Linked DNA regions of Homo sapiens: region 2 is reported to be linked to region 1. Evidence: microRNA targets listed by miRTarBase, many of them from high-throughput screens and not tested one by one. Region 1 holds a microRNA gene; the other region holds the end of a gene's coding sequence.
The links. The annotated mature microRNA hsa-miR-192-5p reads CUGACCUAUGAAUUGACAGCC and lies in region 1 at 4,446-4,466, shown strand. An mRNA with a match to its seed (bases 2 to 7 or 8) in the 3' UTR can be bound and repressed. Matches are read on the target gene's strand: a 7mer-m8 pairs with bases 2 to 8, a 7mer-A1 pairs with bases 2 to 7 and ends in A, and an 8mer does both.

Region 1 (7,232 bases):
CCTGAGGAGTCCCACGTTCCTAGGTTCCCTCAGCAGAGTGGCAGGTGCCTAGGAAGGGGAGGAAGAGTGGGAGGAAGTGGGGAGTGAGGCTGAGCAGGACCCCCTAGGCCAGCACAGTGACAGGCAGGGAGGCTGAGGGCTGGTGGGGTCTCAGACTGTCCTGGGGGCCTGGGGCTGACGTGTGCCCCAGCCAGCTGTCCTCATCCAGTGCTCCCATGTCCCCCAGGCCACAGCTGAGACCGTGTATGACATCCTGTCCCCGGCAGCCCCCGTCTCCCGCTCCCTGCAGGATAAGCGCTCTGCGCGGAGGCTGCGCAGGGGCCAGCAGCCTGCCGACCTGCGGGAGGGTGTGGCCAAGGCCTACGACACAGTGCGAGAGGTGACCAGGCCCCCGCCCTGCCCCAGTCCCCCATGCCCATCTCCTCACACAGACCCCGCCCTGACCTCTGGCTTCCACAGGGCATCTTGGATACAGCTCAGACCATCTGTGACGTGGCATCGCGGGGCCATGAGCAGAAGGGGCTGACGGGCGCCGTGGGGGGCGTGATCCGCCAGCTGCCCCCGACTGTGGTGAAGCCGCTCATCCTGGCCACGGAGGCCACGTCCAGCCTGCTCGGGGGCATGCGCAACCAGATTGTCCCCGACGCCCACAAGGACCACGCCCTCAAGTGGCGCTCGGACAGTGCCCAAGACTGAGCCTGGGGTGCCCGGCACCCAGAGGGTGCTGCCCACCATGCTCCTGAGCCTCCCAAGAGCTGCAGCCCACGGGCCCGGCCCGGCCTGGCCCTTCAGGGGATGGCCACTGTGAAGGACGCCTTCCCAGCCTGCCCGTTGCCAATCTGCTGTGAGAGGGGGGCCTCCCTGCCTTGGGGCCTTAGCCCTGGCTCTGCACTTTTCCTCCGGGGAGAAAGGACACTGCCCCTCCCCCGACCTGGGCCCACACTGCTGCCTTCTCCCAGGACGGAGGCTTTTGGACCCTCGGACCCCATCCCACTCAGCCAAGTGTCTTTCTGTGTCTGGGGGGAGGAGGGGATGATATCCGTGTGGTTCGATGTATTATTTTTAAGCTCCGTGAGTGCGTGGGTCAGTGTCTGCATGAAGTGGAATAAACTGCCCACCGCCAGCCCCCCTCTCAGATCCTCTGTCCCTGTGAACCCTGGCCTCAGCCTTGACCTTGGCCCCGCCCCAGATCCCACCTCTGCACCCAGCACCTCCCATGTCACCACCAGGGGTCGCCATGCCTCCTGGCCTTGCCCAGCAGATCAGGGCACAGGGGGACCCAGAGGCACCCAGCCCTGCACGCCTTCCCCTGGCTCTGGGCTCTGCCTTGCCCCTCCCAGGAGGCTGCCACTCCAGCCCCACTCCTGATGTGGCAGGAGCTACGTGGGGCTGCCAGGGGAGGGAGGGATGGTCCTTGGAGCCCAGCTGACCCTGCCTGGTTGTCACTTGAGGCCACTCGGGGAAGGCTGAGCCTGAGGCATTCTAGATGTTGCTCTCACCATCCCTAGTGGGGGCTTTTGGGGTGGCCCAGGCCTTGGCCCCTTGGTTTCCACTCTGATCTGGGGTCCCAGCTCCAGCACTTGGAGGGGGGAGGGGTGCTGGAGCAGCGCTGCAGCCGGAATCCCAACCCTCACTGCACAAAGCTTTACACAGGACCAGGGAGCGCCCATTGCCCCCCACACATCTTGTTTCTTGTGAGCTGCTCCCATCGCGCTCCTCCCTGCCCTGCTTCCCAGTGGCGCTGCACAGAGGTGGGTGGGTCCATGGGGAAACCAAGGCTCGGGTTGGGAATCAGGGAACCCTCACCTTGCTAGGTTCCGCAGGCCTCTGGGGTTAGCAAAGGTCCCCCAGCCCTGCTCTGTGGCCCCTTCTGAGTGGGGGAGATCTGGGTACTGGGAACAGAGCAGAAGCTTTGTCCCGAGGGACCCTGGGGTCCTGGCTGCCCACGGACAGCTGGGGCAGCAGGCTGGTAAGAGACCAGGAGGGCGAGGCCCTGGAGGAGACAGGGCTGTGGAGACTCGGTGCTGATGCCACCCGGAGAGGCAGATGGGGCCCAGCCTGATGCTTCCTGGACCCGCCCCACCCTGCCCGGGCACAGTCCAGGGCTTCCTGCCCTTCGAACCGCACTTGTGATCAGTATTGACGGTGGTGGGATAATCATTAACCACCACCAGGGGCTGGGTCAACGGCTCAAAAGGCCCTGGGCCCAGGGTGTCCCCACTTCCTCCTTGTGCCCCGAAGGCCAGCCCGGCACTCAGGTAAGAGGCTTCCTGAGTGGTAGGACCCCTGCCGCCCTCCCTGTCCTAGGAGGCTCCTGAACCCAGGCACCTCTCTGAAGGGTGGCCAATCCTGAGGAAGAAAGGGACCTGGACAGCCATGGGGTGGCCGGGACGAGCCCCTTCCTCTCTGTGCCTTGGTTTCCACTGTGGGATAAGGGGGCCTTAGCATCAGCGCTCAGAGCTGTGGAGCCAGGATTCCTGATCGGGCGCTGTCTCTGCCAGGCCAGGGCACTTGGACACCACGCTGCAGGAGGCTGGTCTCGCCCAGGCCTCTGTGGGAAGGGCCGCCAGGCTGAGTGGAGGGCCAGCCACCAGCTACGGTGTCTTCCTTCGCAGGTCTGTCCCCCCAGGCAGAAGGATTCCAGCCCAGGGATCCCCCATCCCACCCTGACTGCATCCTGAGAAGGGGGGACGCCACTTCGGGAAGGTTGTTGGGGCAGCACAGGCCCTGGGGCCCTGCTCTGTGACCTTGGGCGGCCCCCTCTGTCTCTCTAGGCCTGTATGCACCACTGGCAAAGGGGGCAGGGCCCAAGTCTACTCTAAAAGCTCCCCTTTCTCTCCAGAAGCTTTGGAGTCTCCCAAAATGCCTGCTGGGTCTCTGCAGGACTGGCACCTGTCACCGGAACCTGTCTGGGAGGGACGAGAACACGCTTTGCAAGAGGAAGCTCTGCCTCACAGAGCCCTGGGCTCACTCAGGGACCCTGGCCAGCAGCTGCTTCCTCTCCCCACAGCGGAGAGAGACCCAAGGGTCCCAGGGCGGATGCTTCCCACCAGGCCAGCCCAGCGTGCAGGGTGGCCTCGTAAGTCCTGATTGACATATGGACAGTGGTTCAGAGAGGTTACGCTACTTGCTCAAGGTCACCCAGCTCCCAGGCCCCTGCTGTCTTCCAGGCCACTGAGGTCCTAAGCGTCCTTCCAGGCGAGCCACTGCTCACAGCCTGTTCCTCATGTTCTGCGGCAGGTTTGTGTATCTACATCTTTTCCAGTTCCCTGTCGTCCCCCTTCCTACACCTCGTCATCCACTATCCCTGTTTGTTTTCTCTGTTCCTTTCTAGTTCTCTACCTGCTCCTCTTATTTTTATTTGAGACAGGGTCTTTCTTTGTCACTGAGGCTGGAGTGCAGTGGCACAATCCCAGCTCACTGGAGCCTCGACCTCCCAGGCTCAAGTGATCCCCCGCCTCAGCCTCTTGAGTAGCTGGGACCACAGGCATGCATCACCACACCAGGCTAATTTTTTATTTTTTGTAGAGATGGGGTCTCACTGTGTTGCCCAGGCTGGTCTTGCACTCCTGGGCTCAAGAGATCCTCCCACCTTGGTCTCCCAAAGTGCTGGGATGCCAGGTGTGCACCGCCATCCTCGGCCTTACTCTTCTCTTCCTCTCTCAGCCCCTCTGCCTCACTATCCCTCTTTCTGTGCCCTCCCCCACACAGCCCCCCACACTTCTTCTTAGTCTCATCTTCAGCTTCCCATACGAGGCCATCCTCATGAAATCAGGCACTGGGAGGTCCCTGGGGACTGACAAGTGCCAGCTGTCCCTTGCTGTCTCTCTGCCCCATGGCTGCAGCAGGGAGGGTGGGCAAAGGGCAGAGGTGACAGTGGCCAAACCTGAAACTGAGGCCCAGCTCTGGTTGGGAAAGAAACAAGGAAACAAAATAACTTGGGGACAGAGGGCGTGGGGTCATCAGAGCGGGCAAAGGCTGCCCAGGAGTTGTAAATCCGAGCCGCTCCCGGCTTTATGAGGCCGATTTGGGGTTGAGCCTGGACTTTGCCCAGGAAGGAGTGCTGGCAGCACACGGGGCGCCAGGTGTGGGCCCCGGATGATAAGAAGCCTCGGTGAAAAGACCATGGACCTGGGGCCACGAAGACTGGGGAGCCCAGGTGAGTGGGCATGGGACACTCTCCAGAGCCCTGCCGAAGGCGGACGCCAGGCAGGGCCCCGGTCTCCAATTGGTTCCCGCCCCCTGTAACAGCAACTCCATGTGGAAGTGCCCACTGGTTCCAGTGGGGCTGCTGTTATCTGGGGCGAGGGCCAGTACCCACGAAGAAGGAGAGGCAGGTGCTGGCCAGCAGACCAGCCAGGACTACCGTGGCGACGCTCCCAGGCCAGATGGTGGCGGGTAGTGGAGGGCTGTCGGTGGGCTGCCGAGACCGAGTGCACAGGGCTCTGACCTATGAATTGACAGCCAGTGCTCTCGTCTCCCCTCTGGCTGCCAATTCCATAGGTCACAGGTATGTTCGCCTCAATGCCAGCCACCAGGACCTGCAGGGATAGGGGAGGGCCGGGGGTGTCCAGCAGTCAGCAGAGATCCTGCGACCCCAGTGCAGCACTCATGGTCCCACCTCCCTCTGTCTCATTCCCCGTGAATGAGCCTGAACAGCTTCAGTCCTGCCCCTGCCCTGCCTGCCCTGTGGCACCTCTATGCTTTGCCCATGCTGTTCCCTTGGGCTGCAATACTCTTCCTAGCTTATTTGCCAGGCTCACTCTTACTAACCCTTTCAAGCTCTGTCCAAGCATTTGCTGCCTCCAGAAGGCCTTATTGAAGCTTCTAAGTCCCCACCTGGGCACCCCCACACAGTGCTGCCGCAGAGCACTGCCCTCTCGGAGCCCCGGTGCTGGTTTCTGCTTATGTCTCGCTCCTCTCCCCATCTGTGAGCTCAGTTCCCAGCCCAGGCGCGTGCCCAATAAATGTTTGCTGAACCAATCCTGAGCCTCTGTCTTGCACCCTGAGGAAGCACCCACCGACATGCAGTGTGGCCAAGGGGGGCTGAGTGCTCTAGGCCCAGTGTTTGTGCTGGAGCCCCCCCACCCAGGATGGGGCCCTGAGCCAGCCTCCCCATCTGCTTCCTACTCTCCCCTCCTTTGCCAGTCTCATCTCCCTGGAGCACAGCCCTGTGGTTGGTGGAGCAGCTTCTCCAGCCCCTAGGATTCCTAAGAGGGCCCAGGACCCCAGCTGCTGGTAGAGGAAGAGCAGCCAACCCAGGACAGGACAGCTGACCCCACCCCTGTCCCGCCTCCCACAACAGCCTCATTTCCACCTATTTCTTTGTGGTGTTTGTTTGTTTGTTTTGAGACAGAGTCTTGCTCTGTTGCCCAGGCTGGAATGCAACAGGCTTCCTCCCAGGAGGAAGCCTCCCCTCCTGGCATGATCTCAGCTCACTGCAACCTCTGCCTCCTGGGTTCAAGCGATTCTCCTGCCTCAGCCTCCCAAATAGCTGAGATTACAGGCATGCACCACCATGCCCAGCTAATTTTTGTGTTTTTAGTAGAGACTGGGTTTCACCATGTTGGCCAGGCTGGTCTCGAACTCCTGACCTCAGATAATCTGCCCACCTCGGCCTCCCAGAGTGCCGGGATTATAGGTGTGAGCCACCGCGCCCAGCCCCACCTGTTTCTTATACAACGGGGTTCTGAGGAAATTTTCCTTTTTTTTTTTTTTTTTTTTTGAGACAGGGTCTTGCTCGCTTTGTCACCCAGGCTGGAGCGCAGTGGTACAATCACAGCTTGCTGCAGCCTCCACCTGCCAGGGCTCACACAGTCCTCCCATCTCAGCCTCCCAAATAGCTGTGACTACAGGCACGTGCCACCATGCCTGGTTAATTTTTGTATTTTTCGTAGAGATGGGGTTTCACCATGTTGCCCAGGCTGGTCTCAAATTCCTGGCCTCAAGCAGTCCTGCCTCAGCCCCCCAAACTGCTGGGATTACAGGCATGAGCCACTGTGCCCTGTCAGAATTTTTCATTTGAATAAAAAGGTTTCTGGTACTACAAAATAAAATTTGTAAAATGGGAAATAGAGACCTAGGAATAAATGTCAAATTGCTTAATAACAGGCGTTGGCTATTGAGCCCTTTCTGTCTGCTGGGCACGCACATCCAGGACCTGGTCCTCCTGGCATCCATCATGAACCTGTTTGGGACAGGAGGACACAGGCTCAGAGAGGGTGCACATTTGCTGAAGTCACAGAGCAAGTTGGACCTTCTCCTGGGGACTGTAGGCAGCCAACAAACATCTGGCCCCTAAGACACTGTCTCTCTCCCCTTCCCACAGGCAGCTCTGCTCACACTGTCCTGGCTGCTCTGAATCCCTGGGCCCCGATTGGCCCCTGCCGTGGCCCAGCTCAGCAACCCCTCCCTGCAGACCATCCCATGACTCTGCAGGCGCTGCTCCCCTCTCTGCCCACACCCCGGCTTCGTGGGCCTCTCCCGCCACCCTTATCTCATTCCCTACAGAGTTAAGGAGCCCTGTGTGCTTATCTAATCCTGTGCTAGTTTCAGACTCCTTGAGGGCAAGGTCCATGACTTACTCATCCTCCCTGGCTGCTTCCCCCACCCACCAGCATAGTAGGTGTTCAGGATACATGGGCTGGATGGTAGGGCCCTGGACTCTAACCCTCTTGGGGCTGTCAGGCCTCAGACTCAGAGCACTGGCATAGGGTGAAAGGGGAGCAGACAGCAGCCACCCTGCCCTGGGGGTCCTCCTGCATCTGCCTCTGCAGAGCACTGCGATCCCACAAAGGCCTGCGAGGGCTATTGGAGACCTGTTCCAATGCATGAGCAAGGCGGATCCAGCACCCTCCCCCAGCTCCTTGAGCCCACTGACCTGTGTCCTTTACCCAGCAGGCCCTGGGCCCATGCACATTTCCCTGGCCTGGGTCTCACCTCCAACCCCTCTCAGAACTCCTCAAGACCTGCCCAAGGGTCACTCCCTCGCGGACACCTGCCTGGCCCCCCGCCCCGCCCCCCATTACCCCACTCACTGGCTCCCTGGATGCTCTGTGGCTGGGATGTTAGCGCCCCCATCATGCCCCATCACCCACACCGGGCTATTTCCCCCACCAGCCTGAAAGCCCCCAGGAGTGGCGGCCACTGACTTTTTTCCTGTAGCCTCAGACTCAAAGGAGGCACTTAATAAATGCACACAGAAGGACTGACCTTGTGCATGAGCAAAGTTG
Region 2 (7,232 bases), not on the chromosome of region 1:
TCTAGCCGCCCAGCCCCCGGTCCCCTACCCTCAACCACACAGCCCAGCCAGGCCTCCCGGGCCCTCACAGAGCCTCTGAGCGGTCGAGCCGCCTCCCTTCTGGGGGCTGACACCCCTGTTAAGACCTACCACAGCTGCCCTCCTCTATTCAAGCCCTCACATCCCCAGAAGCGCTTTGCTCCGTTTGGAGCTCTCAACCCTTTTTCCGGGCCTGCCTACCCCTCAGGCCCTTCAGCGGCCTTGTCTTCTGGGCCCAGAACCACCTCGGGTCCTGTGGCTACCTCTGGCCCTGCGTATTCCCCAGGCCCAGCCTCGCCAGGCCAGGCCTATTCAGCTGCTCCCCCCTCCTCCTGCGCCCCCTCCTCCTCCTCTTCTTCTGAATGGCAGGAACCAGTCCTGGAGCCCTTCGATCCCTTTGAGCTGGGGCAGGGCAGTTCTCCAGAGCCTGAGCTGCTGCGTTCTCAGGAGCCCAGAGCAGTGGGGACACCTGGGCCTGGACCCCGCCTTTCACCACTTGGCCCCTCCAAGGCCTTTGAGCCTGAAGGTTTGGTGCTGCACCAGGTCCCCACCCCACTGTCACCAGCTGCTCTGCAGGGACCCGAGGCGGGAGGAGCACTTTTTCTAACCCAAGGGCGCCTGGAAGGGCCTCCTGCCAGTCCCCGGGATGGAGCCACAGGCTTTGGAGTCCGAGATGCCTCCTCCTGGCAGCCCCCTGCTGACCTGTCTGCACTCTCCCTGGAGGAGGTCTCTCGCAGTCTGCGTTTCATCGGGCTCTCAGAGGATGTGGTGAGCTTCTTTGCCCGAGAACGCATCGATGGTAGCATCTTTGTGCAGCTCAGTGAGGACATCCTGGCAGATGACTTCCACCTCACCAAGCTGCAGGTCAAGAAGATCATGCAGTTCATCAAAGGCTGGAGGCCCAAGATCTGAACTGCCCAGCTGGAGCTGCACAGCTGGAATGCTGGTATGGGGGCCCCAGGTACAGCACTCCGGAGGAGCAGGTGCTGCCTGCAAGAAGGATCTATGTCGAGACTGAGGCTGCTCAGCAGCCACTGGGTGGATCCAGGGGAGATGCATGTGGAAATGTGGTCCTCTGGGGTCAGACCCCTGCACGGGACATCTTGCCTTTGAGTGTGCAGAGTACATGGGGAAGGGGCTGGGGGCACCACTGTGTACCTGGGCCCAGTAAGGCATTTGCCGTGATTCCCACAACGGGGTCAAAAGCTGGCCTTCAGGGTGACCTAACACCACCTCATGCCCTGCTATAGACCTTCACAAACGACTTCCACTGCTGAAGCCTGTAGGCTCTGTTTAGAGACAAGAAGATGGCTGGTAATTTAAGCACCGATTTCCCAAGTGCCCACTCTCCTTTGTGCTCTGTTGGCTTTTGGCCTAAAGCTGCCCCAGAGTGAGGGTGTAGATGTCTGTGTCTGTGAGATGCCTTTCCCTTCCCCCTCTGCTCCACCGTGGTTGAGGGGGGTGGGGCCTGGCCCCGCACACAGGTGAGTCGTGTACAAGCCTAACCCATGGCACCTCAGAGGCTCCACCTGTGGGTCCTGGTTCATGGGTGACAACTTTGGAAGAGCACAGCTCTGCAATTGACCCGACCCACTTATCTAGTTAGGAAGCCAGACACTGCCCAGATGACTCTAGCACCCTGGCTTCTGCTCTGACTTTACTGCAGCTAGTCATCCATCCGTCAGGTGGCGTTCAGTCTCAGAATACTGATTCCGTGGAAGAGCAGGTTGATTTAGGTCAGCTTCTCCTTGATTCTAGAAGCAAGCGGTAGTCAACCACCTCCAATTCCGCCAATCTCTTGCCCCCATCATTTGTCTCTGACAATACTTGGTGTTTTTCCCTGGTTTTCTGTCACTGGCACAGGAGGGTACAGTTGGGAGAGTGCGTTCCTGGAGCTCAGTCCTGCATTTGTTCACGTGCCTCACAGCAGGCCTTTGTGCCCTTGAATCTCAAACATGGGGATCTGCTTGGTACCCAGAGCTCTGGTCATTGTGTCCAACCACACACCCCACCCCATCCGTGTCCTCCATCTCACCCAGAACCACAGGGTGCCCACTAGTGTCAGGGCCCAAAGTGCCAGCCTTCTCTTCTGCCTTACCTAGTCTACCTATTTATTTCCTCCACTTTTTATCTTAAAAGTAGCTAAGCCATGCTGGTGCCCATACTCCAAGCAGGCTGCCTCAGCTCAGAGAAGTGGTCAGAGAGTAGAGCACAGAACCTGTGATGTGGGGACATTTGGTTTTCTTGCAGATCATTTAATGAATCCTCAAGGACTAATGAAATAAATGCTAGACTGCTGAAGATGAGTACAAGTGGCATTCTGGGTGCCAGCTGCTTTCTTCTTTTGAAAACAAGGCCATGGGGACCCATGGGCACAGTGTATATGCCTTCTGGCAGGAGAGGACTGATGGAGGAATGATGTGGGTGTGTGGCCATTCCCATGTCTGTGGAGGCGGCTGGTGGCAGCCTTCATTCCCTTCTGCAGGGCCCTCGCCAGCCCCTCCCTACCCTTCAAGAACCCCCACCCCAGCTTCCACTAGTTTCAACATAATTCACACCTACCTGGTGTTACTGAAGGGAAAGACCCAGGCTCAAAGCTGAATGCCACCAGCCAGGGCCCAAGCTTAGCTTCCTGCATTGGCAGAATGCCGGCTTCAGGCTCTCTCAGACCAAATTTGGAAACCGGTTAATGGCTTTGGTGCAAGGGATCAGCTCCCTACTCTGGTCATCTGAAAACCTCAACTCAGAGGTGACTTGGTTTTAGAGTCTGGCTTCCTAGTGACCAAGCAGAGCCAGACCTGATCTCCTTGCCTGCCAGTCCCAGCTACAGAGCTGGGACCAGGGACATATTTGAAGTACAACTGGAGCAGAGGCAGGAGTAACTGGTAATATCTGACAATTTAGAATGCAGAATGTGATGGGACTGGAATTACGATTCCGCACACACTCAGCGTGGATCCTTCTGCCAGACCCAGTTAGCCCCAGTGCTGTTTACCCAGACTGGGCACTGCTTCTGTAGGAACTTTCCATCCCAGGGGGTGGGGTGGGGAGGGGCTGAAGCTTTGGGGGAGTGCAGGTGCTGTGGGGGTCAGCACTCCTCATGCTGCTCCCGTGCTGCCTGATTACCGCACAGGCATTTCTGGGGCAGCCCTGCTATGCAGGATCTCCGAACATCAAGGGAGATGTCAGCGCCTCTGCTTAGCACCAACGTTCCCACAACCATCCCAAGAAGCACCTATGAATGAGGCACACCCAGAAAAGAAATGGGTAAGATCACACAATGAGGAAATCCAGGCTGGGGAAAGAGGTTTAATATCCCGGTACACCGTGGTGAGAAGCCTGGGCAAAGCATCTGCACAGACAGGTGTGTGTGGTTGAGCCCACCAGGTCCCACTTTCTCTCATCCCAGTCCCTCCCTAAGGTGCTGCCTAGAATTCTGCACACACATTCTTACTCCCCCAAAGCACAGGGCTTTCTTCCAGATTGCTTTTTGAAGGAGGCGTTTAAACCAGAAGGGCAAAGATGCTGACACAGAGTTTGGTTTTTATTGTTATGTGTTTGGCTGGGTGCAGAACTGCCCTCACCACCCCTGGCCACCCTGGCCTCTTGGGAGGAACAGGCAGAGAGGTGGCTTCAGATGGCTCTTGGCTGCCACTCTAGGCCTCGGGGCTTATACAATGAGCAGTGGGCTCTACCTTCCAACAGGAAGTGCAAACTAATTCGAAGTCACACTTCACCAGGAGGGAGAGATGGTCTTGGCTGAAGGCACTTTAATCAGGGAGCAAACCCAGTGCCGGAGTTTGTCTTCTCGTTACTCTGATAAATCTAGACACCACTCTGTTGGAGAACCAGCACTGCCGGCAGCTGGGGTTAGTGCACTGACTGAGCGAGGCATGAGGCCTGCTCACTGGTAGAACTTCTTGTTAGGGCTGTTAGCATGGTCAGCTAGCAGCTGGCATGGGGTGAACTGTTTTCCATAGGCAGCTTCATATTTCTTGAGCCGGTCCACTATCTTCTGGGCGCCATACAGATCCACAAAGCGGAAAGGCCCTGAATAGAGAAAGAGGACTTCGTTGAAGGAGACGCAACACGGGCTCCAGGCTAAAGTGAGCTTCCTTCCCAACCTGCGAGACCAACCTCCCAGACAAGGCGGGAAGCCAAGCCCAAAGACGGCTCCGATGTCTCCCTCTGCAGGTGTGGCCAAGATCCCCTCTTGCAGGCACATGACTGCCTCATTCACAAATCTTGTCACCAGGCGGAACTGGATGTCTTCGTCTGATGAGCTGCCAACAGAAAGAGATGTTTAGGTAGAAGAAGAGGAAAAGGGGAGGAAAGCCAGAGCCGCAGATGCAGAATGGAAGTCGGGATGGGTGCATGGGGAGCTCTGTGGGCCGGTTGGTGCTGGCCCTCAGAGAAGATGCTGCCTGGGTGAACCAAACTTTCCCATGGAAAAAGTGGAGAGTAACTTGCCCTAATTAACATGAAACTGAGCACCTAGAACAGGGCCTGGTGCCGAGAAGATAATCAGTATCTCTTTGACATCAGCAACAGTCAGCTGCTCACAAATGATAATAAAGATCTGGGAGGGTGAAGGGGCCAAGGAGAATCTGTCCTTCCAGCGGCTCTCTGGGAACTTGCCAGAGAAGGCTGGAGCAGGGGAGGGCCTTCACCAGACGTGGCCTGGTTCTCACCTAGATGCTGGGCAGAGACCAAGGAGCACGTGCGAGGGCCTTCCACTTGGAAAGCACCATGCCAGCATCAGGAGTGGTCCTCCTGTTCAGGTATGGTGGTCACAAAGAAAATGGAAGACAGCACCATGGCACGTGTATACCTATGTAACAAACCTGCACATGTATCCCAGGACTTAAAGTATTAAAAAAAAAAAAAAATGGAAGAGGGGCTGGGAAGCTTTGGGCTGTCAGAGAAAGTCAATTTCCAGGCATTAGCCACTCAAACGGACTTACACTTCAGACTTAGGAGGCAGCTTCAGACTCGCTAAAATACTATCCATGTCAGAATTCAAATCCTTCCTCTTCACACCCTCCTGATAGATGTAAAAGCCCTTCCCAGATTTACGACCTAAAACAGGCAAGAAAAGGGAGTGTTACTATTTGTTCTCAGGGAGGGAGTGTTACTATTTGTTCTCAGAACCCTGGCCTGGCCAGGCGTGGTGGCTCACGCCTGTAATCCCAGCACTTTGGGAGGCCGAGGCGGAGGATCATTTGAGGTCAGGAGTTTGAGACCAGCCTGGCCAACATGGTGAAACCCCATCTCTACTAAAAATACAAAAATTAGCTGGGCGAAGCAGGAGGATCGCTTGAACCCGGGAGGTGGAGACGAGATTATGCCACTGCACTCCAGCCTGGGCAACAGTGTGAGACTCTGTCTCAAAAAAAAACAAAAAACAAACAAAAAAGACCCTGACCTGAGAATTCTTGTCTCTGTTGGTCTATTATAAAGCTCTGGCCTCTTCTGAATTCCTGAATTTGTATGTCTAGCTAACCCTAGCAAATTAGTCTTTGTCAGAAGAGTGGGCAGAGAAGGAAAGAAGATCTTGTGACCCGGAGCTTGGGCATCTGTGTACATGGATGAGAAAGGCCACCTGGGTGAGTTTTAACATCCCCATATGCAGCACCGGGTCCTAGAACACCCAGGTTGTAATGCTGATTTTGCTGTTTTGCCAAGACAGAAAGTCACTTCTCTGTGGGCCTCAACTGTATACTGTGTATGGTGAGCTTATACATTCTCCTCACAGGTGGCCAGACAGCATGGTAAAGCCCGGATGCAGAGCTTGCTTCTGCACTATTGCAGATTTCATCTCTGGGGGATAAAAATGCTTGTCCATCTGGCATAACTTGGACCAGGTGATGCTAGAGCCCCAGAAGGGTAGAACTCTGCCTTTTGTCCATAATCTATAGTCCTAGCCCTTAGAAGGTTCACATGACATCTTTTTTTTTTTTTTTTTTTGAGAAGGGGCCTCGCCATGTTGCCCAGGCTGGCCTCACACTTCTGGGCTCAAGCGATCCTCCCACCTCAGCCTCCTAAGCAGCTAAGACCATAAGTGGTTGCTACCGCACCTGACTCATAAAATCATTTTTGAAATCGCCAGTGATAAGGGCTCTGTGTTTAGAAAACTTTCTTCCACGAGGGCTTCTGTAACTCTTTGGTCTCAGGAACTGCTTAGAACTTTGTAACTAATGGTGCTAGTTATGTTTCCTTGAGGCTACTCACCTAGGAAGCCCTTGGACACCATCTGTGTCAGCAGTTCTGGGTTTCCACCTCCAAACCGCTCCCCAAAGACTTTGCCCAGATCTTCCGCCACATGTTTCGCTACATCCACACCAACTTCATCCACCAGTGTGGCGGCACCCACAGGAAAGCCAAAGCTTGTGGTCAGGGAATCCAGCTTCTTCGGGTCAACTCCTTCCTGAACAGGAAGCGATGCAGGGACCTCAGGGGAAGGGCAGCCCAAATCCCCCCAAAGGGCTCCCTGTACTGGCTCCAAACACTGCCTTGTGTAAAACCCACTTCTGAGTGTCACCTGACCAGGCCCAGGACTGGTGCTATTTCATTCAGGGAAGCACAAAGAAGTTTGGGGCCACAAGTGGAAAGTCTGAGCCTTCTCTAATCTACAGCACTTTAAGGACGTTTAGAGATGACTAAATTCTTCATTTTCTTCTTGTTTGCATTTCTGAATCTCAATAATAAGGAGATTGCATGACAGACGGCTGAGTGTGTCATGACCAACAGAAGAAACATCATCAAAGAGGAGCACTCAGAGCCCTGTGATCCCCAAGTCTGGGTAAGTGCCCAGCGAGGAGGATCCCTCTCCTTTCCTGCCAGAATGACCTCGATGGCTACTGGAGAGGTCTGTGTGCTGTGGAAACAGATGCAGCACCAGTTGAACCAAGCGGGCCCTGTTCTGGATGGTCCCTGCCTCAGAGAGGTGCAGAAACAGCATAGAAGACATGCTGGGGGGTGGGGTGCCTTTAGCTTGCTGGAACAGTGAGGAGGCTGTGGGGCAGAGGGAAAGCTCTGCCCCTTTCAGTGCAGTATAAGCCCAACTTCCGACTGCTGTGCAGAGAGAGGGCACCAGGGACCTTCCTAGACAAGAGCAGGAGTTGGTGTATCAGAAGGAAGCTTGGTCCTTATCTTGACATCATGAGTTTTAGAGTGACTGAAGGAGTGGAAGATGCCGCAAACACTCTGGAGAG

Region 2: miRTarBase lists GAREM2 as a target of hsa-miR-192-5p. Seed matches in the 3' UTR shown: 7mer-m8 at 1,752-1,758.

The regions. Positions count from the first base shown.
Region 1 is chr11:64,888,437-64,895,668 of GRCh38, reverse strand. It overlaps MIR192 (microRNA 192), which reads left to right and starts at 4,423; the gene lies at 4,423-4,532. It overlaps ATG2A (autophagy related 2A), which reads left to right. Exons shown (of 41, transcript NM_015104.3): 40 at 227-379; 41 at 460-1,123. The coding sequence ends at 696. MIR194-2HG (MIR194-2 host gene) reads left to right here and starts at 2,220. Exons shown (of 3, transcript NR_133640.1): 1 at 2,220-2,258; 2 at 2,843-3,079; 3 at 6,329-7,211. MIR194-2 (microRNA 194-2) reads left to right here and starts at 4,230; the gene lies at 4,230-4,314.
Region 2 is chr2:26,187,328-26,194,559 of GRCh38, forward strand. GAREM2 (GRB2 associated regulator of MAPK1 subtype 2) reads left to right here. Exons shown (of 6, transcript NM_001168241.2): 6 at 1-2,336. The coding sequence ends at 930. HADHA (hydroxyacyl-CoA dehydrogenase trifunctional multienzyme complex subunit alpha) reads right to left here. Exons shown (of 20, transcript NM_000182.5): 17 at 6,250-6,445; 18 at 4,983-5,097; 19 at 4,156-4,301; 20 at 3,308-4,068. The coding sequence ends at 3,923. Among named protein-coding and RNA genes, the nearest start is that of GAREM2, 18 kb to the left of the region's middle.